7 linked regions of the Homo sapiens genome follow. The protein of the gene in region 4 interacts with the protein of the main gene of each other region in a biochemical or structural test. Each region holds a gene or a part of one and is shown on either strand. Other genes may lie near its edges. The genes, in order: MIB1, RNF38, TRIM39, UBE2N, RNF168, HLTF and TRIM63.

The links.
Region 1: the proteins of UBE2N (region 4) and MIB1 form a complex in vitro, tested with the Homo sapiens proteins (one study listed by BioGRID).
Region 2: the proteins of UBE2N (region 4) and RNF38 are reported together in a solved structure, tested with the Homo sapiens proteins (one study listed by BioGRID).
Region 3: the proteins of UBE2N (region 4) and TRIM39 form a complex in vitro, tested with the Homo sapiens proteins (one study listed by BioGRID).
Region 5: the proteins of UBE2N (region 4) and RNF168 form a complex in vitro, tested with the Homo sapiens proteins (2 studies listed by BioGRID).
Region 6: the proteins of UBE2N (region 4) and HLTF form a complex in vitro, tested with the Homo sapiens proteins (2 studies listed by BioGRID, with this or other methods).
Region 7: the proteins of UBE2N (region 4) and TRIM63 form a complex in vitro, tested with the Homo sapiens proteins (2 studies listed by BioGRID).

Annotation. Positions count from the first base shown.
Region 1 is NC_000018.10:21,865,853-21,870,311, forward strand, and holds part of MIB1 (E3 ubiquitin-protein ligase MIB1), read left to right. Parts: 3' UTR 1-4,459. UniProt on the Homo sapiens protein: E3 ubiquitin-protein ligase that mediates ubiquitination of Delta receptors, which act as ligands of Notch proteins.
Region 2 is NC_000009.12:36,389,932-36,394,390, forward strand, and holds part of RNF38 (E3 ubiquitin-protein ligase RNF38), read right to left. Parts: intron 3,684-4,459; exon of another isoform or gene 3,630-3,683; intron 2,239-3,629; exon of another isoform or gene 2,224-2,238; intron 686-2,223; coding exon 536-685; intron 1-535. UniProt on the Homo sapiens protein: Acts as an E3 ubiquitin-protein ligase able to ubiquitinate p53/TP53 which promotes its relocalization to discrete foci associated with PML nuclear bodies. Exhibits preference for UBE2D2 as a E2 enzyme.
Region 3 is NC_000006.12:30,336,356-30,340,814, forward strand, and holds part of TRIM39 (E3 ubiquitin-protein ligase TRIM39), read left to right. Parts: intron 1-3,552; coding exon 3,553-3,575; intron 3,576-3,916; coding exon of another isoform or gene 3,917-4,006; intron 4,007-4,149; coding exon 4,150-4,265; intron 4,266-4,459. Other genes in the region: TRIM39-RPP21 protein, read left to right, coding at 3,553-3,575, 4,150-4,265.
Region 4 is NC_000012.12:93,413,749-93,418,207, reverse strand, and holds part of UBE2N (ubiquitin-conjugating enzyme E2 N), read left to right. Parts: intron 1-4,459. UniProt on the Homo sapiens protein: The UBE2V1-UBE2N and UBE2V2-UBE2N heterodimers catalyze the synthesis of non-canonical 'Lys-63'-linked polyubiquitin chains. This type of polyubiquitination does not lead to protein degradation by the proteasome.
Region 5 is NC_000003.12:196,489,648-196,494,106, forward strand, and holds part of RNF168 (E3 ubiquitin-protein ligase RNF168), read right to left. Parts: intron 1-4,459. UniProt on the Homo sapiens protein: E3 ubiquitin-protein ligase required for accumulation of repair proteins to sites of DNA damage. Acts with UBE2N/UBC13 to amplify the RNF8-dependent histone ubiquitination.
Region 6 is NC_000003.12:149,044,509-149,048,967, forward strand, and holds part of HLTF (helicase-like transcription factor), read right to left. Parts: coding exon 4,355-4,459; intron 3,656-4,354; coding exon 3,520-3,655; intron 1,752-3,519; coding exon 1,572-1,751; intron 1-1,571. UniProt on the Homo sapiens protein: Has both helicase and E3 ubiquitin ligase activities. Possesses intrinsic ATP-dependent nucleosome-remodeling activity; This activity may be required for transcriptional activation or repression of specific target promoters.
Region 7 is NC_000001.11:26,053,846-26,058,219, reverse strand, and holds part of TRIM63 (E3 ubiquitin-protein ligase TRIM63), read left to right. Parts: intron 1-569; coding exon 570-592; intron 593-892; coding exon 893-1,017; intron 1,018-4,255; coding exon 4,256-4,327; intron 4,328-4,374. UniProt on the Homo sapiens protein: E3 ubiquitin ligase. Mediates the ubiquitination and subsequent proteasomal degradation of CKM, GMEB1 and HIBADH.

The sequences.
Region 1 (4,459 bases), on a different chromosome or scaffold from region 4:
TTAGAAAGAGTGACCAGGACATGTATAGAAATGTCTGCTTACCTGTAGACTTTAAAAACAAACAAAATTTTTGGAGCATTTAATCATTTTTTTTCTCCTTTTATCTCCTTTGTAATCTTATTGTCTCCTGAGTAAATATACACATAAATGTTTGGGGATTCATTGCTGCTAGATTATATCAGGTGTTTACATAGTGTCTACTATATGCTGTTGATAAGCTTTTTCCTAAAAATAGTTATCCTCTTTTGTAGTTTTTTTCCCTCCTTTAAATCTGGCTAGCTTTTCTTACTTCAGTTTTTATAGAACACCAACTAAATTTGAAAGTATGAAGTCTCTAGCCCTCTTACACTGTTTCTGGCTGTTTAATCCTTGCTGCCTTTGCAAGTCCTGGTGAAAGCAATGGGGAGCTTTGCTGGCTGGTTTTGTAGTCTCAACAATTCCATGTCTGTGTTTAGCTGAGTAACTGCTATCATTTAGAACAGTAAAATTTTTATAGATTTCAAATTTGAAAATTCATGTACACTCAGTTATCTAATAAGGGGCCACCGACGCTGTTTTTAAAACTATTTTGAAGTTATAAAAAGGTAGAACATCTGACTGATGATGTTCACATAAAGAGACAGACAGACTATCATGTTGCAGACATGAAAACAGCATGTCAGGTTTTTCCTTTCCTTCCATGCCATGGGCTACCCATCTCTTCCCACTAGATCACCTGGTGAGGAGGGAGCACCTGGCTGACTCATGCAGAGTTTGGCCAATCAGAGAATTGTGTGGTCTCCAGCTCTACTTTCCTTAAACAAATCCTTTCTGTTTTCTGAGCTGCAGTGCTAAAACAGATCCCTAAAAGGTAATAGCATCTTCCAGACTAGTTTAATTATTTCCTTTATAAGAATATGACATAAATTTTTATTATAGAAATAATGTCATTATAATTTTAGTGCTAGTACTTGTGGGTTTTCTGTATTTGTATCACCTTGAAATTTGTTCCATGAATAGAAAATACTTCTTTATTCATGTTTTCAATCACTTAGAATTATTTTAAATTTATTTTGGGTTTGTGAGAGATAATAAGATTAAGAACTTCATCATTTCAGTGACTTTCCTCCAACTCTCTGAATCTGCTACCTCTTATTATATGTCCCTTAGCAGTACTTTTCCAGTTAGGTTCGTTACCCTGCTCATTAGCTAAACCTCTTTATCTTGTGCCTCAAAAGAGCTTTTACTTTTCTTAGAAACATTTATAAAAAAGAAAAAAACTGACACGCATTCATTCAAAAAAGTATTTATTGGGCTTTAGGGATTAGATACACAACAGTGGAAAAATGGCATCTTAGCACACTCAGAATTTATTGTGCAGCAGTTGTGTATTTTAAGGAATCTGTAGTTAAAAGGAAGAGATCCAAAGGTCCTGATAACATTTCCTAACGTTTCAGAAGAGTTGTCATTGAGTAGTGTTTGGATTTCCTCTCTGTATCCCTCACCCTACCATTTTCTCCTTTATTCTTCTAAGATTGTTAGCGTTGTTACTCAAAACATACACATACAACATACCAGATGGTGCTGTTCTAATGGTATTTGTTCACGTAATTTAACGTTCTTACTGCTTATACTATATACATATTTAATTTTGTTGGGAGCAAGAAGGTTTTCAAGAAAAGATAATTTTGTATTAGTGTAGGAATATATTAGACAAATGTTTAGTTGGTCAAATTATGCATAAGATATTTGTAACTTTAAACATTGCAAATTGACCAGCTAGCTATGGAAGCATAAAATTAATTGATAATTAATGTTGGAAATACATTTCTAAAATTTATATTTTTATGGTGTTAGCCTGTAAGAGCATTTTAGCATATTGAAATGCATGCTGCTTAAGATGTGTCTGGTTCAAATATCAAAACTTGCTGGGTCATTTTTACATAGTAGAAACATACTGTCTATGTGTTGCCCAATTGCTGTTTGTCCACTCTGAATTCTGGACCCTTTTTGGACTAAGAATTAGTTAAATTCATGAACTAAGAGAATTAGAGATGGGGTAGAGTAGGATCAGGACAGTGGGGTTACAACAGATAGGAAAGGAAAGTCAGCATTTGAGTGTAGAGAAAAAAAGAGGATCATACAGATGTCATCAAATTATAGGCTTTAATACAGGTTGCTTTTTTTAATCCAAAAGGAAAAGCACTTATCCTATCAGAATGTCTACCATGTTTTATAGTAATAATTTGTGTAAAAAATTGAATTTTTGAATAGTTTTTTGTATTTTTTGTGATGAAAAACTCATAACATAAAATTTACCATATTAACTGTTTCTAAAGAATACAGTTCAGCCATGTGAAGTACATTTACACTGTTGTGAAGCAGATCTCCAGAACTTTTTCATCTTGCAAAACTGAAACTCCATACCCATTAAACAACTCCCCTTTTTGTTTTCTCCTCAGTGGAATAGAATTTTGACTCCATATAAATCAAGAAACACCTAAATTCTTTAGTTGTTTGTGTTTGCAAGATCTAAGGTCATGGTAAACATTAAGTTCTTAAAATTTTTGGGAGGGACAGTGCACCTCTCCTCTGAATTGTTAGCAATTAAATTGAGTAGGTTTTAAATGTCTATTCATTGGAAGGGTTTGTTATTTCATTTTGAGCCAGAGGGGAGAGGCACATTTTAAATATCAGAATTAGATTAGCTTTGAGTTTGTACAATTGGGAACATAATAGATTTTCATAAATTATGTGTGCCTTGTTGGAAGTGTCAACTGTCTTTATGTCTGCTTGTAAAAGTTTCAAAATATGTTTTCCCTCAAAAAGGCAACGTTACTTCATTTGCTTGAATATTATGATAGGAATGCTTACTGATATTACTTGATAGTCATATATAGCCTAGGAAATTTAACATATATATAACTATAGCAGTATTAATAATGATAGTTGTACTTCTTTAAAACATTAAATTTGAGGAAACTTTAATGCTGTCTCGTGTACATTGCTTTACTACAGTGAGGGGGAATATCCTTTAGATTGAGCCTCAATTTACTGGTTAGTAGTATGTGAAACTCTGGTATAAAAACGTAAACTAGACAGTAGAGCCGATGAATTAAAATTGTAAATTGCTACATTGGCATTTTCTACCTCCTTTTCTGTCAGAGTATTACTTTTTCCAGCATTTATTCTTATTTGTGAGTAAAGAGGAAATGGGAACCTGAGGTTAAAATTGACATTTTTGTTTCATTGAGAATTTAAGCAGTAGGTACAGGAGAAGTGACTTGTCACATTAATTTGGTGCCTAAATCTGTAACTACAAGTTGTGATCGACATGTACAAAATGTCTAAGAAAGGTCATATGCTGAATATTTTACTTTTCCTGTATAGTCTGCATGATTTGTTTCATAAACCCAGCTTATTTCCTCCAAAAAGCAAAATGGTCCTGTAATTTTTAAAGTAAAATAAACGTGCCATTTTGTCTGCAATCTATAATTTCAGGAAGTTATTGAAAGTTCTGACTCAGGGCTTTTTAACAGTTCAAGCAATTGTCAGTTATATTTTGGAAACTCCATCTGTGTAATTCTCCAGTGCCTTGAAAGAATTATTAACTTGGCAACACTATTAAAACTTTATAAAAGATGGTCTTTAGTGCACGTGTATCATTATATACACGTTTTAAAGTCATATTGCTTAGCTTGTTAATAATGATTCTGCATGTGTGCTGGGTTTGGGTAATTCTTTAAAGGAAGTTTTCTAGATTTGCACTTGATGTTTGTTTTTTAAAAACTGATTATTTATGGCCGTGACACTGTTACCAGAAAAGTAATTCTAATTAAGTTATTATGCAAAGTCATCTATAAGTAGCATCTGGGAAGAGGAGATCGAGGCCACAGTTTGCTATTTTAGTATGAAAGGAGGATCTGTTTGGGAAACATAGATTGTCTTCCCCTCAAATGAGGGGAAAAAAAAAAGACCCTTTGTTCAAATGGATTCTGTTGTAAAAAATTATTTTTAAAGGAAATCACAAATTGTATGTCATTCTTAATGCTAGTCTTATAGAATAAATCCATAAAATTGTTTTTATGTTCAGTATGTTTATGTCATTCTAAATGCAGCAAATTCAATGATAGCAGTTCAATTGACTCATAGCAGTGTTTTGTATTTTTTCTAATTCTTTAGCTTTCAATATTGGATTAAAGTCTTGTTTGTGAATATAGTTTCCGTATGGCAAATGATTTCTTGCTTATTAGCTTTTGTTAAAGAATGCTTAGTAAGAGCTAAGCTTTTAAAAGTAATGCAAACATTTATCGTTAATAAAACCTATGGTGTAATATCATATAATGCTTTTCTTTGATCTTTGGAGAATTATTCTTTTATAGTAGTATACATGAATTTTGATTTTTAAAGCATTTAAAAACAAATCTCAATACATTAAAAAACCTGTTATTGTTAAAAAGGAAATTACCATGCCTTTAAG
Region 2 (4,459 bases), on a different chromosome or scaffold from region 4:
TCTTGTTAATAACCTAATGAGTTTCAATCCATTTACACACCTTACTTTCGAGTTTTCATTTTATATTTAAAAAAAAATTTTTAACTCACGTTTACCCACAGGTAAAAGAAGACAAGTAACCATGTTTTCTCTCAGAAATGTATGTTACTATCGAACTCTGGGTGCCAAGCAAGTAACTAGTGAACATCTTACATGCTTTCATTTTTCCTTTCCTACACAACTTCATATATTCTACACTATCTTCTACTTTCCTACAGAACTTGACCTATTAGGACAAGTGATTTAAGACCAAAAGATCAAAACACAAGAATATTAAGTAGTCAAATAATTAACAGTAGCTGAGTAGCTCAAGAAGACAAACATTAGTCAGAAAAGCTGGCTGAAAAAATATTAAAGTCCTCTAAGAAGAATACTTATTTCCACATACAACAGAAAACAAGGAGACGATATTGGGCATTTTGTTTCAAGCCTTCCTAGAAACACTGTAGAATGTGACTTTCAGCCCTATGTAGGGAAAGGGTAAATATATAAGAACCTGGAAGAAAGCTTTGAAGTGAGCATCCTCTTGAACGGTAGTGTTCTGATCACTTGGGAGGAGAGGGAACAGGCTCTGAAGTCTCACCCTTTCACAAATCACCTTGTTAGGATGGCCAGGTAGAGATGCTGAATTGGCCCCGGGAGATATCTGGGAAAAAGAGGAAGAAAAGGATAGTTCATGGCTAGCTGCACCAATGTGGAGAATCACGCCTATGAAGGATAGTCTGGATTTTCTAGGTATTTGATGATTCTGCTAGCGAAGACAGGAAAGAAATTAAAAATTAATTTTAAACATCAAAACATAAAGATGGCAAAGGTTGCCTCTGGCAATGGATCTCTCTTACAAAAACTGTTGGAGGCAAAACAGCACAGCCCAAGAACACCACGTCCTTCCTGTTTCCCAAATACCTATTGGTAACTTTTTCTGCTGGTGTTAATTCCGAAATCCTAAAGGACAGACTTCATGCTAAGAAAACCCAAGGTAAAATTACATATCTTAAGTACAGAAAGGTTAAGTGTTTGCCTGGACCAAGATTAATACTTTTTCTCATTCTGTTTTTTAGTTAACCTTCCAAATAATCATGCAAAGGAAAATGACAGATTTAACAATATTTGTGGCAAATTTTCTATAGCAAACATATGTTTGACTGCAGAAATCTCAGCTCTATTCAACACAAACCTAAAGACCTTCCTAAGGAATAAAGGACACAATCATAAGCACAAAAGTAAATGACTGCCACATTTCCAATGCTTGATTTGGCCAATGCAGTGGTCACACCTGTAATCCCAGCACTTTGGTATGCCAAGGTGGGAGGATCGCCCCAGTTATCTACAAAAATTAAAAAACAAAAATAAATGTTTGACTTGATTATGGGTTAATCCTCTTAAATTCATATGTAAATATACTTACTCTGTAACATTAAAAAAAAAATCATGAACATAATGTGTTCCACTGTGCTGTGACAGTGAATTCTTCTTGGGGGGTTAAGGCTCGTGGTCCCTTCTTGTACCTACACTAAAAGTTACATACTTTAACATGGTCTTCTTTTTAGAGTTTCATTGCCTCATTCATTCACTCAATCCTACATTTAAGCATCTATTTGGTGACAGGCATTAAACCAAAAACAAAGGCATCGTTTCCTACTTTTTTTTTTTTTTTTTTTTGAGATGGAGTCTCGCTGTCGCCCAGGCTGGAGTGCAGTGGTGCCATCTCGGCTCACTGCAGGCTCCACCCACTGGGGTTCACGCCATTCTCCTGCCTCAGCCTGCAGAGTAGCTGGGACTACAGGCGCCCGCCACCCCGCCTGGCTAATTTTTTGTATTTTTAGTAGAGACGGGGTTTCACTGTGTTAGCCAGGATGGTCTCGATCTCCTGACCTCGTGATCCGTCCGCCTCGGCCTCCCGAAGTGCTGGGATTACAGGCGTGAGCCACTGCGCCCGGCCCGTTTCCTACTTTCAAAAAGTATATGCTATAAGAAAGAAACAAAAGTAAATCACTGCAGGATGTAAGTATTATGGTAACGCTAGGCACTAGGTGCTATGGAGAAGTAGCTGCCAAGAGACAGCAGTGTAGTCAGGAAACTGCAAAACGTTTAGTATGGCTAGATAGTAAGGAAGCAGCCAGAAACCGATCATAAAATGAAATGCTATTAATATCCCTGCTGTTAATATATTAATACCCTTACCTTCCTTAGCCTTTTTATAGTATTTTGTTTCTGCTTTGCTATGGACCTGGTAAACAGATAACTGTGCCCACTGGTAAGAGTAAAAATACTTCCAAAGACTCACCTAGAAGTAAAAAACAAAGCACTTGAAAGCAGAAACTTTAGAATTCATTAGTTTTCTGTACAGAATGTTCTGATCTCTATACTACAAACATGAATGTGCTATCCTTTACCATTACGCAGAAGTATGCATTGCTGAATCAAGGCGTATTTACTGACTGACTCCTACAAGCCAAGAATTACATTAGGAATATAGAGACAGGCCAAATGCAGTGGCTCACACTTGTAATCTCAACCCTTTGGGAGGCCCTGGTGAGAGAAGAGCTTGAGTACAGGAGCTCAAGACTAGCCTGGACAACATAGAGAAAACCCCATCTCTACTCAAAAAAATAAGTAAATAAATAAAAATTAAAAAAATTAAATTAGTGTGGCATGGTGGCACACTCCTGTAGTCTTAGCTACTCAGGAGGCTAAGGCAGGAGCTTCACTCGAGCCCAGTAGTTTGAGGTTACAGTGAGCTATGACTGCAATACTATACTCCAGCCTGGTCAACATGGTGAGACAATTTCTAAAAATAAGTATTTGTTAATCTAATAAGATATAAAAACATGGGCCCTAACCTCAAGAAGCTTATTCTAACAATTTTTGAAACCCAGATGCAAGCAGCCAACTGTAACATAATATTTAAAGGCCATAAAACAGGGAAAAATTAGGAGTAAGAGTTCTGAATTAATGTGAAGGTAAGAGTTAAGATTTCATAGAAAAAGGAGTATTTCACATTCCTGACTCAATCTAAGGAGGGCTTTTGCCACTCTCTCAAAATGGTTTGCTTCTTTATGTAGGAATCTTTTTGCATCCTCTTAAGCTTTTCATTTGCTCATTATGTATCCTTTGTAGCGTGTTATCCTAAGGCCATCCTGCCTTCAACTATCATGCCCAAAGCAGTCTTACAAAATTGCTAGTACAAGTAGCTGGCTGGGAAAAGACAAATCAAGGTTATGTTTCTTCTCCTTCATTCCTTGTTCCTTTGAAATCTTAAGATCTTGGTCATAGACAAATGAAAAACTGGCCAACCTGGTCCCTGTGGCCATAATTTTCAAGCATATCCTCTCCTACTCACAACAGTTTCCTTTGATCAGAGGCTCCATTTGTCTTAAAAAGGATGGACCAATATAATGGAGAAAAGCTATATTCAAAATAAGTCTGGGACAAAACCATAGATGGGCTTGATTAAAATGAGGTACAATTTTTACTACTAGGTAAAATAAAATCACACACACACATTGTGTGTGTGTGTGTGTGTGTGTGTGTGTGTGTGTGTGTGTGTGTGGGGCAGGCAGTCCCATACATAGGTTGCCCAAGATTACCTCTGGTGTCCATCTCCTGTACAACCCCCTTCCCCATGTGCGCAGGCAGGGCTGTGAATGTGATGTATTTCATTCCCATTATTAGGTTAAATCATATGACAAAGGAGGAAAGACGTTCAGATGTAATGAAGATTCCAAGTAAGGTGAATTCAAGCTAAAGACAGATTATCCTGGGTGAGCCTGGGCATGACTTAATCAGAGAAAGCAGAACTGAGTCCTTCCCAAGAGATTCTCTTGCCAATTCTTCAGACTAAGATGTTGTGAGAAGGCATGCGAAAGGTACCATGTGGCAGGGGCTTGAGGGCAGCTTCTAGGAGCTGAAAGCAGTCACCAGTTGACGACCAGCAAGAAATGGGGGACCTCAGTCCTATAATCACAAGAACCACATTCTACCAGTGAACTTGGAAGGAGACACGGATGAAATCACAGCTCTGGGCCGGGTACAGTGGCTCACGCCTGTAATCCCAGCACTTTGGGAGGCCGAGGCGGGCAGATCACAAGGTCAAGAGATAGAGACCAACCTGGCCAACATGATGAAACCCCATCTCTACTAAAAATACAAAAATTAGCTGGGCGTGGTGGCGCACACCTGTAGTCCCAGCTACTTGGGAGGCTGAGGCAGGAGAATCACTTGAATCCGGGAGGTGGAGGTTGCAGTGAGCCAAGATCGTGCCACTGCACTCCAGCCTGGCGACAGAGCAAGACTGTCTCAAAAAAAAAAAGAAAAGAAAGAAATCACAGCTCCTGCAAGGTAAGACCCTGGGGGCCCAGCAGCTAACCCCATACCAGGACTCCTGATTCATGGAAATTGTAAGGAAATATTTGTGTTT
Region 3 (4,459 bases), on a different chromosome or scaffold from region 4:
TAAAGGATACAGGCATACCTCAGAGATATTGTGGGTTCAGTTCCATACCACTTCAATAAAGCGAGTATCTTGATAAAGCAAGTCACATTAATTGTTGGGTTTCCTAGTGGAATCATATTTTTGCTGGTGGAGGGTCTTGTGTTAGTATTGACTGATCGAGGTGGTGGTTGCTGAAGATTGGGGTGACTGTGGTAATTTCTTAAAATAAGACAACGACGAAGTTTACTTTCAACTCTTCCTTTTATGAAAGATATCTCTGAGCATGTGATGCTGTTTAATAGCATTTTACTCACCAGTAGAACTTCTTTGAAAATCTTTGAAAACCCACATTTGCAGTTACTTACAACATGGGAGTCTTGAACCCCTAAAAGTCATCCATAAGGGTTGGAATAGACTTCTTCTAAATGCCTGTTAATATTGATATTTTGGCTTCCTTTCACAAATCACAAATGTTCTTAATGGCATCTAGAATGGTGAATCCTTACCAGAAAGCCTTCAATTTACTTTGCCTAGATCTATCAGAAAAATCACTATTTATAGCAGCTTTATGAAATACATTTATTAAGACTTGAAAGTCCAAATTACTTCTTGATCCATGGGCTGCCGATTGGATGTTGTGTTAGCGGACGTGAAAACAACATGAATCTCATTTTACATCTCTATCAGAACTTTTGGGTGATCAAGTGCATTGTCAGTGAGCAGTAATATTTTGAAAGGAATCTTTTTTTCTGAGCAGTAGGTCTCAACTTAAAATTTTCAGTAAAGGGTTGGGCACGGTGGCTTACACCTGTAATCCTATCACTTTGGGAGGCCAAGGCAGGTGGATCACCTGAGGTCAGGAGTTTGAGACCAGCCTGGCCAACATGGTGAAGCCCAATCTCTACTAAAAATACAAAAAAATTAGCTGGGCATGGTGGTGGGCGCCTGTAATCCCAGCTACTCGGGAGGCTGAGGGAGGAGAATCGCTTGAACCCGAGAGGCAGAGGTTGCAGTGAGCCAAGATCATGCAGTTGCACTCCTGCCTGGGTGACAAGAGTGAAACTCCATCCCCCCAAAAAAAACTTCAGTAAAGGCTAGGCACGTTGGCTCACATCTGTAATCCCAGCACTCTGAGAGATCAAGCCAGGAGGACTGCTTAAGGCCAGGAATTCAAGACCAGTCTGGGCAATATAGCAGGACCCCATCTCTACAAAAGGTAATTTTTTTTAATTAAAAACATTCAGTATACCATGCTGTATACAGGTGTACTGTCATGTAGGCTTTGTTATTCCATTTCTAGAGCACAAGGAAAGTAGATTTAGCATAATTCTTAAGAGCCCTAGGATTTTTGAAATGGTAAGTGAGCACTGGTTTCAACTTAAAGTCACCAGCTGCCCTTGCTTCTAATAAGAAAGTCATCCTGTCCTTTGAAGCTTTAAAGCCAGGCATTGACTTCTCTCGAACTGTGAAAGCCCTGGATAGCACCTTCTTCAATAGAAGGCTGTTTGTTGACATTGAAAATGTGTTGTTTAGTGTAGCCACCTTCATCAGTAATCTTGGCAAGATCTTCTGGATAACTTGCTGCAACTTCTGCATCAGCACTTGCTGCTTCTCCTTGCACATTTTTGTTACAGAGATGGCTTCTTTTCTTAAAACAACCTACCTAACTTTAAACTTTTCTTCTGCAGCTTCCTTACCTCTCTCAGCTTTCATAGAACTGAAGGAGTTAACAGCCTTGCTCTGGATTGGGCTTTGGCTTAAGGGAATCATGTGATCTTATATCCAGATCACTAAAATTTTCTCCATCTCAGCAATAAAGCTGTTTCACTTTCTTATCATTCATGTGTTCACTGGAGTAGCACTTTTAATTTTCTTCAATAACTTTTCCTTAGCATTCACAGCCTGGCTTGGTGTTTGGCACAAGAGGCCTAGCTTTCAGCCCATCTTGGCTTTCAATGTGCCTTTCTCACTAAGCTTAAACATTTTTAGGTTTTGATTTAAAGTGAGAGACATGTGATTCTTCTTTCACATGAACACTTAGAGGCCATTGCAGGATTATTAATTGATATAATTTTAATATCGTTGTGTCTCGGAATAGGGAGGCCAGAGGAGATGGAGAAAGATGAGGGAATAGCTGGTAGTGGATCAGTTAGAACACATAAAATATATTTATCGATTAAGTTGTTCGTCTTATATGGATGCAGTTCACAGTGCCCCCATAACGATTACAATAGTAACATCAAAGATCACTGATCACAGATCATACTAGATATAATAATGAAAAAGTGTGAAATATTGTGAGAATTACCAAAATGTGACACAGAGACATGAAGTGAACACATGCTGTTGGAAAACATGGTGCCAGTAGACTTGCTCAACACAGGTTGCCACAAACCATCTATCTGAAAAACATACAATGTCAACAAAACACAATAAAGCGAGGTGCAATAAAATGAGGTATGCCTGAAATTGTTTAAATAATATATTGCTTTTGATATGTATATATTAATAATACCTCTAAAGTGTTTGAAATATTTTGTTCTCTTACGTAAATGAATGGTGTTAGCAAAACTAGGGAACATATTTTTTATCTTAGAGATTAGATTACCAGCATTTGAAGCAGTGAGGCTTCATTGTACATTTATTTTTATGTTACGTATTGCTTGGTATTTGTTCCTATGGCCTTTCATGTATGTGTGTTCTGCCTTCCATATTAAACTGGGAAATCCTTGTGGGACAGAGATTTGTCTTCTTTGTCTTCTGGACCCCAAGTATTCACAAATCAGTATTAGCACACAGTTATTAATGTGTTTATTCTTCCTTTTTTTTTTTTCTGAGAGAGTCTTGCTCTGTCGCCCAGGCTGGAGTGCAGTGCATGATCTCGGCTCACTGCAACCTTTGCCTCCTGTGTTCAAGCGATTCTCCTGCCTCAGCCTCCTGAGTAGCTGGGGTTACAGGCGCACACCACCACACCTGGCTAATTTTTGTATTTTTAGTAAAGACAGGGTTTCACCATGTTGGCTAGGCTGGTCTTGAACTCCTGACCTCAAGTGATCCACCCGTCTTGGCCTCCCAAAGCGCTCAGATTACAGGCGTGAGCTACTGTGCCCAGCCAGTTATTGATGTTTATTAACTAATGCAAGACAGGGGATACCAAACCGTAACAGGAATGTGTGATTTGTTCCTATGCCACCAGTCTGGAACTCTCTGTACTTATCCTCAAGGAGAGTGAGATATGTGGTTGGTACTTGGGGGACAGAGTAAAGAATTGATACAATCCCTGTCCCTTATAGGGAGCTCCCAGCATCCTTGAGGAGCAAAGACAAGCATAAAAGAAATCATTGGGAAGTGATATAAATGACCAAGCTTCATGATGACCAGAAGTTGAAAGTAGGGATTAGGTTGGGAGAAGTGCATTCAGGTCCCGCTGGAGCTCTTCTTGCACTGTGTGACCCTCAGTTTATCCTATCCCTATTTTATAGCTGTGGAACTTTGGGGAGGAGGGGGAACCTTTTGCCTTCAGGACCACTGAATACCAGGACCAATATTGCTTTCTTTTCTCCTTCCTTCTAGGATGTCAAAAGTACCCTGGAAAAGTAAGTGATTGTTGTATCTCTCTGAGTGAGTTAGGTCTTGGCTTAGAGAGGAGGGGTACAGTCAGGAGTTTGGGTTGGGGGTGAGGTTGGGAAAGTCATGTAGTGTGTCTGGGCAGGGTATGGGAGAATGTTCATTGTGCCCATGAAGCCAGTTAGAGAACAAATTATTGGGAATAATAATCCCTTTTCCCCTTTGAACATCAGGACTTCTTGAGAAGGAGAATGATAAGGTAGAATCAGATTCTACTTGTGCCAGTGGGTGGAATTGTGTCCAAACAAGATGGCAGGAGGAAGGGGTTGGGAGAGCAGGGAGGGCAATCATCCATTTGCATGAAATACAGGAATATTCCTAGAAAGTTCGGAGGCTCACTCTCAACGATCTGTCCACGGGATCATAAGGCTCTCCTTGGATTAGTAAAAGAAATCAACAGGTGAGCTTTTCAGGGAGGAGGAAGAAAGTGGGAAGATGGAGAATTTTAATTTCTCCCTAAAAATGTTAACATCTGAATAGTCACTTGGCTGGAGCTTCTCCCTAACCCTGCCCTTTCTTCCCCTATCTCCCTATCCCTCCTAGATGTGAAAAGGTGAAGACCATGGAGGTGACTTCAGTATCCATAGAGCTGGAAAAGAACTTCAGCAATTTTCCCCGACAGTACTTTGCCCTAAGGAAAATCCTTAAACAGCTAATTGGTGAGTTGTTCCCAAAAGGAAACTAGAAGAAACCACTAGAGAGAAGAAAGTTTTTAGGTCCTACCTTATATGGGTTTCAGTTATCCTATGTCTCACTTTTCTTACTCCCACACACACCTACCCCTTTATCTGGCTTTTAGTCTCACCCTGAGTCACAGAACTTGGAGTGAGAGGAAGCCTTAAGCGTTATCTAC
Region 4 (4,459 bases):
TAGTTTTTTGGTTTGCAGAGATGGGGTCTTGCTATGTTGCCCAGGCTGGTGGTAACATTTTTTAAATGCTCACTTATTGGGCCAAGTGTGGTGGCTCACGTCTGTCATCCCATTGCTTTGGGAGGCCAGGGCGGGAAGATTGCTTGAGGCAGGAGACCAGCCTGGGCAACATAGAGAAACCCATCTCTACAAAAAAAGTGATAAATAAAAATGCCCACTTATATATATAGAGGGTGAACTTGCAGATTCTCATAAGTAACTTACAGTTGTGTACATAATGAAGAATTGACTTGCTTTATTAGTGATCCCAAAAAAGGAGCCCGTTTGTTTTATCTTACAAATTTTTCATAATTTTTTTCTTTATTTAAATTTTTTTTCTATAACACACAACTTTGTCCAGAACCCTGTTTGTTAATATTTTAGAATCGCTTAAAGATGTAGTGACAGGTTGGAGTTTACAGAGTAGGTATCATTGAAGCATCACTCAGTTTTTTAACACTTATTTTTCAGTAATGAAATTGGCAGTTACTGAGTTATCAGACAGCTCTTGTTTGAGATGAGCTAAAAGATCTACAGTTGATATTACTGGTCATATATTGCAATTTTGTGTTTCAGAGAATATTCTAAAAAACCTAATCACTGTAGACAGGATGCACTGGGATATAGATAGTTACTAACTGGACCAACTTTTCTCACACACAAATTAGCACTTTTTCTAAGAATACTGTTTATTACCCCAAAATTTTACTGTACATACTCCAATCATTGCCTTGCAGAAGAGCATCTAAGACCTGTCATTGCTTCGTACTGAGCACAAATTATTTTTCAACTTAAAAATAAGAGTCCTGGTTAATAGAGATAGGTTGACAGAATGTCAGTTGTTATAATTGACTAACTACAGTATAGTTTACAGTAGTGTGAGTCTAGGGTTTGCTCTTCAAGACCCAGTAGATCTGTTGATAATTAGATCAATTTGATGTGATATTTGATTCCTTTTAAAAATATTTGTAGCATTAACTATTGTATGCGTTCTATAAGATGAGATACCTTCCTTTAGACTTAATTTTGTGGACATTTAAATCCATACCCTATTCCTTTACCAACTTACCTGTCTATTTTAGTAACTAACTTCCTGAACATAGTCTACATTAACTAATTTCCTGAACATAGTCTACAGTGCTTTCTATTATGCATGGCCCTAAACTCACTTCTGTTTGGGATTCAATCCTTGGACTGCTTTTAAACATAATAGAATCACAAAATTCATTTAAGGGTTATTCTGTTTTTCTGTAAACAACTATGGCCTTCCTATGTGATCTCATTTGTCAACTTTTTTTTTTTTTTTTTTTTGGTAGTGATGGGGTCTCACTATGCTTGCCCAGCTTGGTCTGGAACTCCTAGCCTCAAGTGATTCCCCTGCCTGCCTCAGCCTCCCAAAGTGCAGGGATTACAGGTGTGAACCATGGCATCCCACCTGCAATGTAAATTATTTGTGCCAAAAGATAGATAAGGCCGGGCGTGGTGCCTCACGCTTACAATCCCAGCACTTTGGGAGGCTGAGGCGGGCAGATCACTTTAAGTCAGGAGTTCGAGACCTGCCTGGCTAACATGGTGAAACCCTGTCTCTGCTAAAAATACAAAAATTAGCCAGGTGCTCACTTGGACCCAGGAGGCAGAGGTTGCAGTGAGCCAAGATCGTGCCACTGCACTGCAGCCTGGGCAAGAGAGCGAGACTTGTCTCAAAAAAAAAAAAAAAGATAGATAAGTGAAACAGTAGGAATTTTAGCCCTTTACTTCTTCACTTAAAGAAATCATACTGTACTCTGTCTTTCCACCAAAGAATAGTGTAAAACCAGAAGGTATTTTAGTTAGTCATGTGTTGAATAGTGGCCGGAAAGATTTTATTTCCTAGCCAGTTTTTGCCTTTTTAGGAAAAAAGTTGACATCAGTTTCTGTGGTTGAGACTTTTTCAGATGCTGCCATTTCAGACTTGTTTCATTTAGTTTGGATTTTATTCCTTTTTTCCCCTCCCACAGTTTATGCTGTGGGTTTGTTAGGGAAACCAACAGTTTAGTGAAATAATTATGCATGTTTTTGTGTCAGTCCATTAGAACTTGAGAGCAGCATATATTATAAGGACTATTTCAAAATGTTTTCTACACACGAAAGCTTATTTTAGAATGTGTTCCAATTAAATCTAGGCTTGATCAGGTCACATGATGTGCTTAATATGTACATTCTTTACAAAGAATATCTGATTTTGAGGGTGAACTGAAGATGAGAAAGTAAATGCCATACCTATCTCTGCCACTGTGTATTGAGAGTGATTTTGAAGCTATTTTGGGATACGCTTTTGGAGGCCTTTCTGTAGCTTTTTATAGTAGATACAGAGCTGCTACTACTTTGTGTAACTGGTGAGTGGTGGATTGGGACTCTTGGGCCCTGGCTTTCTTTTTTTTCCAGTCACCCAATTTATGGCTTTCTAAAAACATGAAGACCTGGGGTAAAATTAAAGGATGGAGGTGAGGAGAGCCCAGAATTCAAGGAATTTTACCATCCAGTTATTTTCTCATTTTTCTACTCCTGCTATTCATCCCTAATATCTTAACTTTTTTCCTAAAAAATGAAGACCAGCCTCTTTTGTTCTGGTCACATGTTAAAGGACTTCCCAAGGTCAGAGGCTTCATTATTGCCTCTTGAGCTTTTTAATACTCTAAAAATGTTTTAGTTTGAACCTAAAGAACATGTCAGTTTCTCACTTGCTCTTACATCGCCATGATCAAAACAAAAAACTAGTCTTAAAATACCAGAGACATTACCTAAAATGGCCATGGGTTTAATTAACACATTTTGGGGAAGCATTTGATTTGTATTTACATCTTATGACTATTTCAGTATATTACTGTGCTGAGAGAGAAGTTATTTGTTGTTGTTGTTTTTAACGTATGCCCTGTAGCTTGTGGAATGAAACAGTTTATGATGTATTTTTTTTTAGGTGAAGGCAGTGTAAATAAAATGTTCTCATTTATTGTTTTTCATACCTAAAAGCTTATTTAAATATGAACATTTTTCTGGTTAAAAATAAATATAAGTAGAAGTTAGACTATTTTTCCCCATACCTGAGTGGCTCCTTTTGTTTTCCTTCCATAATGTGCACATCCTGCCTTGAAAATAACCCTGCCTTAATGATGTTAACGATGAAATTCTGATCGTTTATTTCCCTCTTTTCATAACATCAAATAGATTCAGAATTCAGTAAATATTAATTGAATATCTATTGTGCCAGGCAGTGTTCCAAATGCTGAGGATATAGCAGTCCATAAAATAGACTCAAATCCATCCTCTCATGGAGCTTAAATTCTGAACAAAATAAGTAGAAATGAGATTTGTTAGTAGTGCTGTGGAGATAAAGCCAGGGAGTGGGGATAGGGAGTGTGCAGGGTAGGGTTGAATGGGGTTTGCAATTTCAGTTATGATGGCTTCACTGAGAAAACATGAAGATCTTAGGAGCTGAGGGAGCAAGCCATATGGATATCTTGGGGAGGAAGAGGAAGTACAAAGCCCTTGAGGTGAGCGGATGCCTGGCACGTTGAAGAACTACAAGGAAGCTAATTTTTGTCTGGAACAGAGAAGGTTAGGGGATGGAGAGAGAACAGCTGAAGATAAGTCAGAGAGGTAGGTGGAGTGAGGGCATCATATAGAGCGTCTTTTGGGGGCCCATTACAAGGACTATGACTTTTTTTTTTTTTTTTTTTTTTTGAGACGGAGCTTCGCTCTTTTGCCTAGGCTGGAGAGCAATGGCATGATCGGGGCTCACCGCAACCTCCACCTCCGGGGTTCAAGCGATTCTCCTGCCTCAGCCTCCCAAGTAGCTGGGATTACAGGCATGCGCCACCATGCCTAGCTAATTTTATATTTTTAGTAGAGGTGGGATTTCTCCATGTTGATCAGGCTGGTCTCGAACTCCTGACCTGAGCCGATCCACCCGCCTCGGCCTCCCAAAATGCTGGGATTACAGGTGTGAGCCACCATGCCCAGACTTTTTTTGAGATGGAGTCTCGCCCTGTCACCCAGGCTGGAGTGCAATGGCACGATCTCAGCTCACTGCAACCTCCGCCTCCTGGCTTCAAATGATTCTCCTGCCTCAGCCTCCCGAGTAGCTGGGATTACAGGCACGTGCCACCATGCCCGGCTGATTTTGTATTTTTAGTAGAGATGGGATTTCTCCATGTTGATCAGGCTGGTCTCGAACTCCTGACCTGAGGTGATCCACCCGCCTCGGCCTCCCAAAGTGCTGGGATTACAGGCGTGAGCCACCGCACCCGGCTCAGGACTATGACTTTTAAAGGGTCTGTGGATAATAGACCTGCGAGGGAGGTAGTGAGGTCAGAAGCAGGAAGAACAGGTTAGGAGGCTGTTGTAGTATGCCAGGTCAGAGCTGATGGTTGCTTGGATCAGA
Region 5 (4,459 bases), on a different chromosome or scaffold from region 4:
AATTTCTAGAAAATGGGAAGGCAATGAAATAGAGATAATTGATACAGCAGAAATGAAGGAAAAGAAATCCTTGAAAGGGAAGACTACAGCTGAGGTAGAATTAGAAGGGAATCTGCCTCCTATTTGCCTAGAGAGAGGCTCATAGAGTCCAGAGTGAGTAACCGTGGGACTGAAAACAGAACTCGAGATTTATAAGCTGTTAAATCAGAATCCTCGACTTACCGGCATTTCTCCCTGGATATGGGTGCAGGTGCACACACGCATATTTCTTTAAAGAAACAGATCTAGAGAGAGCCAGAGCAGCTAATGTAATAGGTGGTGACCCAGAGCAAAGTCCTCTGCGATCGGGCAGTTAGGGATGGCAAAGCACAAAGGCCAGGTTTCCATCGGCTTGAACTCAACGTCTGCCCATCACCAATACCCTTCCACATACACAGAGCTTTTCTCCTGGGCCTCATTCTCAAACCTAAAAGCTAATCCAAGGATCGTCAGACATTTGAAATACATCTGCAGGACTAGGGAAACAGTAAGCTATACAAAGAGAAAAAATCATCACCCTGGAGTTGAAAGATAATTCTGGGTCAGAAAATAACCTAAATGTGGGTATGTATCCTCAACAAATCTGATGAGAATTTTATTCTATAAAACAAGACACTGTTTTATAAAGTGTAAAAAGGGAACATCCAAAAAAGAGAACGCATCTGTCTGTTTCAAGGGGCAGCTGCTACTCAACTCCAGCTGACTACGACTACCAGGAAACTCAGGCCTGTCCGTGCCATATTTTTTGCTTTCTCAAGAAAATCCAGAGGCGGCAGGGGTGGATGGTGAGAGATGACTTCATGGGTACAATGTACATTATTTGGGTAGCAGATACCCTAAAGAGCCCTGACTTCGCCACTGTGCAATCTATACATGTAACAAAATTACCCTTGCACCCCATAAATTTATCCAAGTAAAAAGAAAAAAAAAAAGAAAATCCAGCAATCAAGATGTTAATATGAAATCTTCCAACTTAAATAGTGGCATTGGATGGGTCACAAAAAACATGCACACAGGATTCCTATGGCCTGCAGGCCAGCAGTTTGAAAAATCTGCAACAGAGAGACTAAAAAACAGTGATGTAACTCCAAAACAATTAGGGATGCAGTATGCTGAATTCTCATTTATTTTAGTCACTAAGGAGGATCTATTCAAGACAATACAATGGTATACACAGGAGAGACATATATAAGGCTCCTTAAAAAGTAGAAGGATAATCAGCTGGCTTAAACTGAGACCTAGATCAGCAAGTCTTAAAGTAGAATCTACGAAACCCTGGAGGTATCTGAGACTTTTTTTCAGGGAAACTGCAGAGTCAAACTATTTTCATTTAAAAAATTAAAGTAAGCTGGGAGCGGTGGCTCACGCCTGTAATCCCAGCACTTTGGGAGGCTGAGGCAGGCGGATCATGAGGTCAGGAGTTCGAGACCAGCCTGGCCAATATGGTGAAACCCCGTCTATACTAAGAATACAAAAATTAGCCAGGCGTGGTGGCACGCACCTGTAGTCTCAGCTACTCGGGAGGCTGAGGCAGTAGAATAGCTTGAACCCGGGAGGCGGAGGCTGCAGTGAGCCGACATTGCACCACTACACTCCAGCCTGGACGACAGAGGGAGATTCCGTCTCAAAACAAACAAACAAAGAAACAAACAAAAAACCCAAATAAAACAACTGACAGTAGGCCGGGCACAGTGGCTCATGCCTGTAATCACAGCATTTTGGGAGGCCGAGGCAGGTGGATCACTTGAGGTCAAGAGTTTGAGACCAGCCTGACCAACACGGTGAAACCCGTCTCTACCAAAAAATACAAAAAGCCGGGAGTGGTGGCAGGCACCTGTAATTCCAACTACTCGAGAGGCTGACACAGAAGAATTGCTTGAACCCGGGAGGCGGAGCTTGCAGTGAGCCGAGATCACGCCACTGCACTCCAGCCTGGGCGACAGAGGGAGGCTCCGTCTCACAAACAAACAAAAACACATGTTCAACATTACTAGTCATTAGGGAAGTGCAAATCCTGAGTACGGAGATACCGCTTCAGAGGACAGCCAACACTTGGTTTTTTTTTTATAATAGTCATCCATTAAGATATATACACACACATAATGGAGTATGCGGCCAAAAAAGGAAATGGAATGGACACGTGCTAGAACACGATGGACCTTCAAGACACTACGCTGCGTGAAACAGCCAGTCACCAAAGGACAGACACTGTGTGGGGTTCCACTCGTACGAGACACCTAGAGCAATTAAACCCGTAGAGGCAGAAAGAATGGAGGTCGCCAGCAGCCAGGGGAGGGGTGAATGGGGAATTAATTATTGTTTAATGGGCAGTTTCAAGCGTGGAAGATGAGAAAGTTCAGAGATGAATGGTGGTGACGGCTGCACAAAAACATGAATGTACTTCATGTCACGCAACTGTCCATTTAAAAATGGTTAACATGGCGGATTTTATGTTATGTATCTTTTACAATAAAACTGGAAAAAAAGTAAATCACTTTACACATTAGATACAATAAAATAGTAGCTAAGAGGCTGGGCACAGTGGCTCATGCCTGTAATCCCAGCACTTTGGAAGGCTGAGGCAGGAGGACCACTTGAGCTCAGGCTATCAAGACCAGCCTGGGCAACATAGCAAGACCCCATCTTTGTTCAAAAAAATTTTTTTTAAGTAGCTAATTTAGGAAAACAATAATAAGACAGATGTATTATACTAGAAAGCAAAACATATCATTAAGCAGAATTAAACTAAGCATGTGTGGTACTGACACAGCTACTGATAAAGAGATAGTTAAAAAATAAAAAGCCCAGGCAAGGTGCCATGGCTCATGCCTGTAATCCCGGCACTTTGGGAGGTGGAGGCAGGCGGATCACTTGAGGTCAGGAGTTCAAAACCAGCCTGGCCAACAAGGCAAATAACCCTATGTCTACTAAAAATACAAAAATTAGCCACGTGTGGTGGTGCACGCCTGTAATCCCAGCTACTCAAGAGGCTGAGACAGGAGAATCGCTTGAACCCGAGAGGCAGAGGTTGCAGTGAGCCAAGATCGCACCATTGCACTCCAGCCTGGGTGACAGAGAGAGACTCCATCTCAAATAAATAAATAAATAAATAAATAAAATAAATAAATAGCCCCAAATTGCTCTGGAAAATAAGCATATGATTAGTGAAATAGTACGTATATCAATGTGGCTGTATTACTACCAAGTAGTGTGGCTATTAAGTGGCAATCAAGGGCAGGGGGAGTTAAGATGCCTACCTCATACAATACTCGAATTCAAGGTGGATTAAAAAATGGAAAAAAACAAAACTATAAACGACTAAGAAGAACATATGAGATAAATTCCAAAACAATTAAAACTTCCATGTGATGAAAGACATCACAAAGTTAAAAACAAACTAGAAGTTATTTGCAAATACATAAATCACCAGAGAATTAGTGTCCAGAATATAACTAGAACTTCCACAGATCAATTAAAAACCACAACAGGCAAAGGAAAGGCACGTGCGATTTACAGAAGATGCCCAACTACAGCAAGCAGAGAGCTGAACTTTTGTTAAACCGTGGAATGACAGATTTTTAAAGTTTACTTATTTCTACATAAACTGAATCTAAATTAAGATCAGTGAGTTATTCAACTGCAGACACAAGTTAAAATTGTCTTCATTTGCCTTTTTCTTTTGTTTTTGGAAACAAGATCTCACTCTTGCCCAGGCTGGAGTTCAGTGGCGGGATCATAGCTCACTGCAGCCTCCAACCCCTTGGCTGAAGCGATTCTCCTGCCCTAGCCTCCTGAAGCACTGGGATAACAGGTGTGAGCCACTGCATCCAGTCCATTTGCTATTTCTTTTTCTTCTTTGACGGAGTTTCGCTCTTGTTGCCCAGGCTGGAGTACAATGGCGCAATCTCAGGTAACTGCAGCCTCCACCTCCCGGGTTCAAGCAATTCTCCTGCCTCAGCCTCCTGAGTAGCTGGGATTACAGGCATGTCCCACCACGCCCAGCTAATTTTTTGTAATTTTAGTAGAGACGGGGGTTTTACCATGTTGGCCAGGCTGGTCTTGAACTCCTGACCTCAGGTGATCCACCTGCCTTCCAAAGTGCCAGGATTACAGGTGTGAGCCACCGTGCCCAGCCTTCCATTTGCTATTTCTTTCTTTTTTTAAATTTATTTTTTTTTTTTTTTGAGACAGAGTCTCACTTTGTCACTCAGGCTGCAGTGCAGTGGTGCAATCTCAGCTCACTGCAGTGTCCACCTCCCAGGCTCAAGCAATGCTACTGCCTGAGCCTCCCATGTAGCTGAGACTACAGGCGCCCACCACCACACCCGGCTAATTTTTGTATTTTTTGTAGACGGTTTTGCCCTATTGGCCAGGCTGGTCTCACACTCTCAGGCTCAAGCGATTTGCCTGCCTTGAACTC
Region 6 (4,459 bases), on a different chromosome or scaffold from region 4:
TCACTTTACTCACTCCCTTGGTGATCTCATGGCTTTAATTACCATCCACACATAGCTGACTTTGAACTCGACTCTCCTATCCAACTAATTATTTGATATCTCTACTTGGAAAATTCACGGGCATCCTATGATCAATGTGTCCAAAACTGAGCTTCTGATCTTAGCTTAAAAAAATCTCTGCTCTTCCCATAGACCTGTCTTGGTAAACAGCAATTCCAGCCTTCCACTTATGCAGGTAAAAAGGCTTGAAGTTATCTTTGATTCCTCTTTCACATGCCATAACATATCAACCAGCAAGTTCTGTTGGTTCTACGTTCACAATTTAACAGAATCTAATCATTTCTCACTCCCTTTATCACTACTATGGTAAAAACCACCATCATCTCTTGCTTTGACTGCCACTGGTCTCCCTACTTCTGACCTTATTCCTATTCAAATAACCTAAATCTGAGCACAGCAGCCAGAGTGATCTTTTAAAAATATAAATCAGATTACGTCCCTCTCCTGGCTCAAAACCCTTTAAGGTTTCCTGTCATAAAAAGTAAAAGCCAAAGTCCTTGACATATGCGTTACATACCCCCATTCCAATAAATCTCTGATATCATGACTATTTTCTCTCGTTCATACTATCCAGCCACACTTGCTTCTCTGTTATTCTTCAAGCTCACCAGGCATGTTCCCAACTGGGAGCATCTACACTTGCTCTTCCTTCTGGCTGAAACACCCCTTAATCCCAATCTCCTTTAGATCTTTACCTATATATCATCTTCTCAGTGAGGTCTTCCTTAATACCCTACTAAAACAGCTTTGGCATTCCCCATCCCCTTTCGTTGCTTTATTCCTTAAAACTTAATCATGTTTTTAAATTATCTGTTTCTTCCCATTAAAATATAAATTCCTCGAGTGCAGGCATTTTTGTCTGTTTTATTCTGCTGTATCCCAATGGGTATAAGTGCCTGGCACACAGTGGGCACTTAATAAATTTTTGTTGAAAGAATATGAAAAGAAAGAAGATTTTGAACTCAGAAATCTGCTGCTTAGAACAATCTTTCCCACTCTCTCTAATTCCTATCAAACCTGCTTTGTACCTACCTCACTGAAGTTTTTATGTTTTGAAGATTCCCCTTTCACAGTCCTATTCTGCTTTCACTTGTCTCTTATTCATTCTGTTCCCTGTGGGCTCACATTAAACCTGATCTTGCTTGGACCAGAATTTCATACCTTCTACCAATCCTTAATCTTCTTGTTAAACCTATTTCATCAGTTCCTATTTCCAGATTTCCATACGATTTTGGAAATAGAAGCAAGCAAAATCTTCTGGCTAGCAATTGAGAACTTGTCATTTAAAGTAAGCTTTAAATTATTTCCTAACTTAAAAAATTACTTACCTGGTGAATTATACTATTATTTCATTCACTTTATTGATTTGTAAAAAACACTGTAATTCATAGAAGCAAATTATCTTTCAGTATACTTCAAACTATTGCTAACACATCTAAATAATGTCATTCAGTGAATGGGAAACAAAGTAAACAAAAACTAATTTTTAACATGGTTTTCTTTCTCCATACCTTCCAATAGTGGCTCTGCCTTCATTTTTCACAGACTGATAAATCTTTCTCTCTTCATCTGAAAGTGTAATGTGCTGAATAAATACTTTACGTTCTGGTAACTCCAAAACAGGTTTTCCTTTAATTTTGCTTGTCTTTGTTCTTCTAAGTGTAATATTTTTAATTAGGGACTGTAAACGCCTAATCAGAATAAAACAAATAATTATGTAACTTTTAATTTCTACATAAATTGATCCAAGAAGAACGAAACAGAACATTTTAATTTGTTACTGTTTTATAGCTTCTGTAAAAGTGTTTTTAAAATCCCTTATTTGGGATTTTAACCAATCTGATAATCACAGAAGTATTCTACAAAAATAAAATTATTAAAACAAATGTATGGAAATTTCCCCTCAATACCTAACATAGTTTAATCTTTTTATATCCTGTCCTTATTTTCGTAAGTTCTGTTCCCCATTTTTGTTCCAATCACTAACTCTTTTACTTCTCAACTGTCCTGTCAACTCCATCACCGAATAGTCAACACTCAAATTCTAAGTATCTATTAAGTGCCAGGCACTGAATTAAATGTTGTAAGAATACAAATATGGGTAAGATACTACATTCTGTAATATTAAAATCAAAAGTATATAAATAAGTAATTGTATAAAGTAATGAGTGCCCCCAAAATAAAAAGATAATATGGTAATTCAGAACACAGAAAAATGCTTTACAGGTTCCACAATCTTTACATTTCTTTCTCAGTACTGGAAAAAAAGAGATGTATCAATTCTTGTTTTTTCCCAACATTGAAATATAAATACAATTTCCTGGAGTTTAAATAGTTGGTTTTGAGGAATCAAGTGGATAGTACTGCCAACTAGGTTAGTGGCTCTTGAAGCTTTCTCACTATAACTCACAGTAAGAAACACATTCTATCCAGCAAAAATATACAAACACATACAAAAGAAACAAATATTTCACAAAATAATACTTACTATGTATCATGCACTCCGATATTTACTAATCTCTTCTCTATTTCATTGTCTTTTTAAATGCTGGCTACCACCTTTATAATGATTTTATATCCCACTAATAGCTCTCAAATCTTCAGTCTATAAACCGGTGCTTTAGCCAAAAAGTTGAACCACATTACATCTTGCAAAATGGCTATCACTGAGTTTTAATTTATGTTCTCAACTTTTATCTATCTCCACCAGAAACAACCACATAAAACTTTCCTATACAACTTTTGCTAAGGTCATGGTACCTCACATCATTCACTATATAAAGCTATGTAAGGCCAGGTGTGGTAGCTCATGCCTGTAATCCCAGCACTTTGGGAGGTCGAGGCAAGAGGATAACCTGAGGTCAGAAGTTTGAGACTAGCCTGGCCAACATGGCGAAACCCCATCTCTACTAAAAATACAAAAATTAGCGGGGCATGCTGGCGCAGACCTGTAATCTCAGCTACTTGGGAGGCTGAGACAGGAGAATCGCTTGAACCCAGGAGGCGGAGGTTGCAGTGAGCCAAGATCGCGCCACTGCCCTCCAGCATGGACGACAGAGCAAGACTCCATCTCAAATAAATAAATACATAAATAAATAAATAAAGCTATATAAGATATGAAAACTTAATGCATATTAGATCCTCAAAGGATATACGATGTTTCCTGCTAAATCTGTTAATGCTGGTTTTGGGGCTTTGGGGCTTAGCAACACACAAAAAACAGTTATGTCTTTCCTTTCAGTTTAGCCACAACAGGGGAAGGGTAGTTATCGACAATTAGAAATCTTTGTCTTTCCAAACAAGCATCACTAGGTTCTGAAAGACAAAGGTACTGAGCCATAAACACTTTTTAGAAGGAAAAGTTAAGAGTCAAGTTAAAATAGTAAAGAAAGTGCCAACTGGTTCAAGCTACTAACAGTTATTTGTAACTAATATTAATCACTGTCTGAAAGTACTTACCTAAGTCCTCCTTCATCTCCCATTGTGACAGGACGCTGTATTGTTCTATGCCACCATTCTCTATCAATAAATGGTTTAAGTTTTAAAAAGGAAAGAAGAGACCACAAGTCCTTTAAAGAATTCTGGATTGGAGTACCTAGAAATAACAGGAAACTGTTATAACTCTTTAACCAGAGTATCCAGTAAGAGTATCTATTTGGCCCAATCAGAGAAGACAACAATTGAAAATGGGCACTCTGTACCAGGCTCATCATTATCAATTAAATTAAACTATCAAGTGTTGACTATAATCATTTATTAAAAATATACACATCTCAAGATACAGTTTTGCTCTAATTTTTAGCTCTCACATGACACACTAGCCAAGAAAAAGACTGGAAAATTCAACTTTCTCCTTATCAAGTACATCTGCTTATTTAGTTTTTAAAGCAGCAGCACTAGCAGAAGGAAAAAGCAACTAGTTTAAGTTTACATTCTTTTCCTTACCTTCTAGTAAAGGTACTGTGAATGGCAAACAGGTTTGAGGATGGGAAACAGAAATCAAGATTATGACTGGATGACTAGAGTGTCTACTCCATTTCCACTAGAGTGTCTACTCCATTTCCAAGGTTCAAGAATAAGTCTAGTGACTGTTCCATAAATTATCAATAAGTCAAATGTTGTTATATCACGGGCAATTATGAAGAACAACTCAAAACATTTGATTAAATTATTTATATGATTAATTTTGGGGCAGAATTTACACCCACTTTAAGTTTACAAAGTTACTTTACTAACTTACATAATGATATATTTTAGAGATTTAAGGTTTTAGTAAGTTTAATGCTATGATTACCTGTCAAAACCCATCTTCTTTCTGATTCTAAGTCAAGTACAGCTTTTGTCTGCTGAGCATTTGGATTTCGTATGGCATGTCCTTCATCCAGGATCACTCTTAGCC
Region 7 (4,374 bases), on a different chromosome or scaffold from region 4:
CTTACTGATTTTATGATGATAAGATAAGAGGATGTTTATGAAATGACTTTGTAAGCTGCAAAATACAGTGTCCCATCTACAGACTATTAATTGAGCCCCTACTGTAGGCCAGGCACTGAGGTGGAAGACAAGGAGATAAACCAGACACAGCCCTGCCCTCAAAGAGCTTGTTGGGGAGGACAGAAAAGGCTCAGTTATAAGACTTCATAGTTCAGTTCAATAAAAATGTTCTAGGCTTCTACTGTGGGCCAGGCTTTTTGCTAGACATTAGGTATGAAAAGGTGGTTAGGATTGGGGAGTTCAGGGTTTAGGAGTTTTGGGATTGATACCCCTAGAATCCAAGCTTCCTGTCAAGACAGTGGGTCCTAGGGTGATGACCAAGACCTGTACAGACCACAGACAGAGGGAAAAGTTCCAGATTCTGCTCAGTTTGGGGTGGGGAGCAGGTCACAACTGGGCTAGGGAATGGCACCAAATATCTACCTACAACACCTAGTTCACTAGTTTTGCTGATTTCCTGCGGTTACCTCTTCTGCGGTCCTAATCCTTTGTTCTCTCTCCCCCTGCAGACTGCCAAGCAACTCATCAAAAGGTCAGTGTCTTCCTAGAGGCTATGATCCAAGCACCTAGTTCCCACCAGGACCTCTGTCCAGGAAGCCTCATCCTGGGCATTAGGCCTGCTGGGAGGGTCTCACTCTAGGCTGGCTTCCCTGACCCTTTGCATCCCTGACTTTTTGGACCACTCCTTGTGCTTGAGGTTGGAGAGGAAATACTCCATCCCTCCAGGGGAGCCTCTGGGTAGAAGGCCTGGGCGTGGCAAAGCATGTGCCCTCTCTTCCCTGCACTGAGCCCCAGAGACCTCATCCTGCCTCTCTTTCTGTCTCCCCTGCAGCATTGTGGAAGCTTCCAAGGGCTGCCAGCTGGGGAAGACAGAGCAGGGCTTTGAGAACATGGACTTCTTTACTTTGGATTTAGAGCACATAGCAGACGCCCTGAGAGCCATTGACTTTGGGACAGGTAAAGGAGGTGGTGATGCCACTTGTCTATTTGCCTGCCTGACCCCTGGAAACCAGCATCCCTCCAACTGAGCCCGATGGGGAGGCAGATACACTAATAAAGATCCCCAAATATCAATCAAACTCATATAGCCAACTTCTGGCCGGCTGTGGTGGCTCATGCCTGTAATCCCAGCACTTTGGGAGGCCAAGGTGGGCGGATCACTTGAGGTCAGGAGTTTGAGACCAGCCTGACCAACGTGGTGAAACCTCATCTCTACTAAAAATACAAAAATTAGCCAGGCGTGATGGCATGTGCCTGTAATTCCAGCTACTTGGGAAGCTGAGGCAGGAGAATCACTTGAATCCAGGAGGTAGAGGTTGCAGTGAGCCGAGATTGTGCCACTGCACTCCAGCCTGGGCAAAAGAGCCAGCCAAACTCCATCTCAAAAAAAAAAAAAAAAAAATTCATATAGTCGATTTCTAGATGAGCCCAGAGCCTAGCACAGTGCCTGGTGCAGAATTCCTGCTTCATAAATTACATATGGATCCATGGCAGGGAGGCCTCTTGGGGCAGTAGAAATAATATGCCCTCTGGAATCAGACAGTCCTGAGTTTAAATCCTGGTTCTGTCATTTGTTTATCTGTGTGACCTTTGGCAAGCCCCCTTCTGCCTGAGTTTTATTTTCTAATTTAAAAAGTCAGGTTAGAAGTGAGCCCTCTAATAATGACCAACTCATGGTGCTGTTGCAAAAAATCAGATATCAATGCAGAAAGGTCCTGTAGAGCCCTAAAGATGTACTAGTTATTGCCTAAAGGTAGTCTTAGCTTCAGTTTCTTAATGCTATCACCTATGATACCCAGGCACCTTAATTGATCAACATCATGTCCTCATTTCTGTTTATAATTACTCTTCCATAGAGTGCCTATAATAATTGTAACAATGCAACCGTAACAATAATAAGGGTGAAAATAACAAAGGAAATGAAGAAACTGAATGGAAGCAAATATGTTAATTTGCTAAAGGTCACACAGCTAAAAGGGAAACACAGCTAAAAGGCAACAGAGAAAGAGAGGGCAGATCCCACATTGCTGACTGTTGCGTTGGTCTGAGAGGTGGTGCTCCAATGACCAGCTGAGGTTGGGGGACAAGGGGATGATGAAGGAACAAGGAAGAACTGTAAATGGCTGGCGTGAGAAAGAGAAGAGCTTCTTGGCACCTCCTGTGTCGCTCTCCTACAAACCTTCAGTAGCTGGTGCTAAGTCTGTTTTCAGAGCCCCAGATATACCCCATTCATAGGTAAGGACAAAATACATCCCAAAGCAGAGACACCAATGGCCTTGGGGACATCCACTGCTGTAGTGAGCTGCTCCACTGTCAGCTTCCCTAAGCTAAGATATTCAAGAGTGGGTCAGCCAGGCACAGTGACTCACGTCTGTAATCTCAGCACTTTGGGGGTCCAAGGCAGGTGGATCACCTGAGGTCAGGAGTTCCAGACCAGCCTGACCAACACGGAGAAACCCCGTCTCTACTAAAAATACAAAATTAGCTGGGCATGGTGGTGCATGCCTGTAATCCCAGCTAACTCGGGAGGCTGAAGCAGCAGAATTGCTTGAATCCGGGAGGAGGAGGTTGCAGTGAGCTGTGATCACGCCATTGCACTCCAGCCTGGGCAACAGGAGTGAAACTCCATCTCAAAAAAAAAAAAAAAAGAAAGAAATAGATATTCAAGAGTGGGTCATACGGTGTGAACATAACATTGTGAAGTCCTGCACTGGCCTTCCTAATCTCCCTGAGCCTCAGTTTCTCCACAAGTAAAATGAGGAGAGTACCAACAGTCACCAGTTACTGAATATTCTGTATGTCCTAGGCGCTAAGCCCTTAACATAAGTTTTATCATTTAACACAACTTCATGGGATAGGTTCTGTTACCATCTCTATTTTGTAGTTGAGGGAACTTAAAGCTCAGAGAGGGTAAGCCACTTGTTCAAGGCCACACAGCTGGCAAGTAGCCTGTGCAGATTCTACTGAGGGCCATTTGGCTTGCAAAACTCTTGTGAGGATTTTATAAGACGATGCAGATTCAACACTGAGCACACTACTTGGCACATAGTAAGTACTCAGCAACTGCTATTAAATGTAGTCATTGTGACAATGATTAAACAACAGAACTCCCTGGGTTATACTCTGATATCAGTTACTTGGCTGGAATTTTGGTTGTCATTTTGGAGATACTATTTTTTTTTTTTTTTTTTGAGACGGAGTTTTGCTCTTGTCGCCCAGGTTGGAGTGCAATGGTGTGATCTCAGCTCACTGCAACGTTTGCCTCCTGGGTTCAAGAGATTCTCCTGCCTCAGCCTCCCAAGTAGCTGGGATTACAGGTGCATGCCACCACACCCAGCTAATTTTTTGTATTTTTAGTAGAGACAGGGTTTTACCATGTTGGCCAGGCAGGTCTTGAACTCCTGACCTCAGGTGATCTGACCGCCTCAGCCTCCCAAAGTGCTGGGATTACAGGTGTGAGCGACCAAGCCTGGCCTGAAGATACTCTTGACAAATGTTCTGATTCTGTGGTGACCCCTTCAGGGCCCCAAAAGGTTAAGGAGGTAGCTTGGGAGAGGAGCGGGGAAGGGAGATGTTCCCTGTTAAAGCTTGACGGTGACATCTCAGGATAAAAAAGTGGGGACATGAGTTGCAGCTCAGTCACTGTCCCTCTGGTGCTCAGCTTCAGGGAGCAGAGGTGGCTCCAGAAGTGCTTCCCCATCATGTCCACCCCTCCCCTCCACAGGCTAAGGAATGAGGAAAATGGGACAGTGGCTGCTGAACAAGCAGATCTCATAGGCTAAGTAGCTTCCTTCAAGACAAGGACTCTGATCCCTGAGGATCGAGGAGGTTTTTCCTCCTCAGGCAATGTTTATCTGCCTACCCGAGAGATGTGCAGAAGCACAGAGTGCGCTTCCTCAGAGTCCCCTCTCTGGTCACAGGCGAGCAGGTGATAGAAGCTGCTGTTGCTGGAGCAAGGAAGTGACTTGAGCCCAGCTCCCTGGGACGGAGTGCGGGGGATTGCAGGAGCAGGGCCTCTGTGCAGCGTGGGTCTGGCAAGCCCATCCCCTCCCAGACCACTGCCGCCGCTGTGTGGCCGTTTGACCCGACTGGGCACAGGAAGGGGTTTAGACCGTGCTCTCTCTTGCCTGGTTCCTCTTCAAGTAGCTCCTCAAGGAACCGGCCCCATCCTAACACAAATGTTTTTTTGTCACAGATGAGGAAGAGGAAGAATTCATTGAAGAAGAAGATCAGGAAGAGGAAGAGTCCACAGAAGGGAAGGAAGAAGGTAAGAAATTCATCTACCTCCATTCCTTCGTTCCTTCATTCATTCCA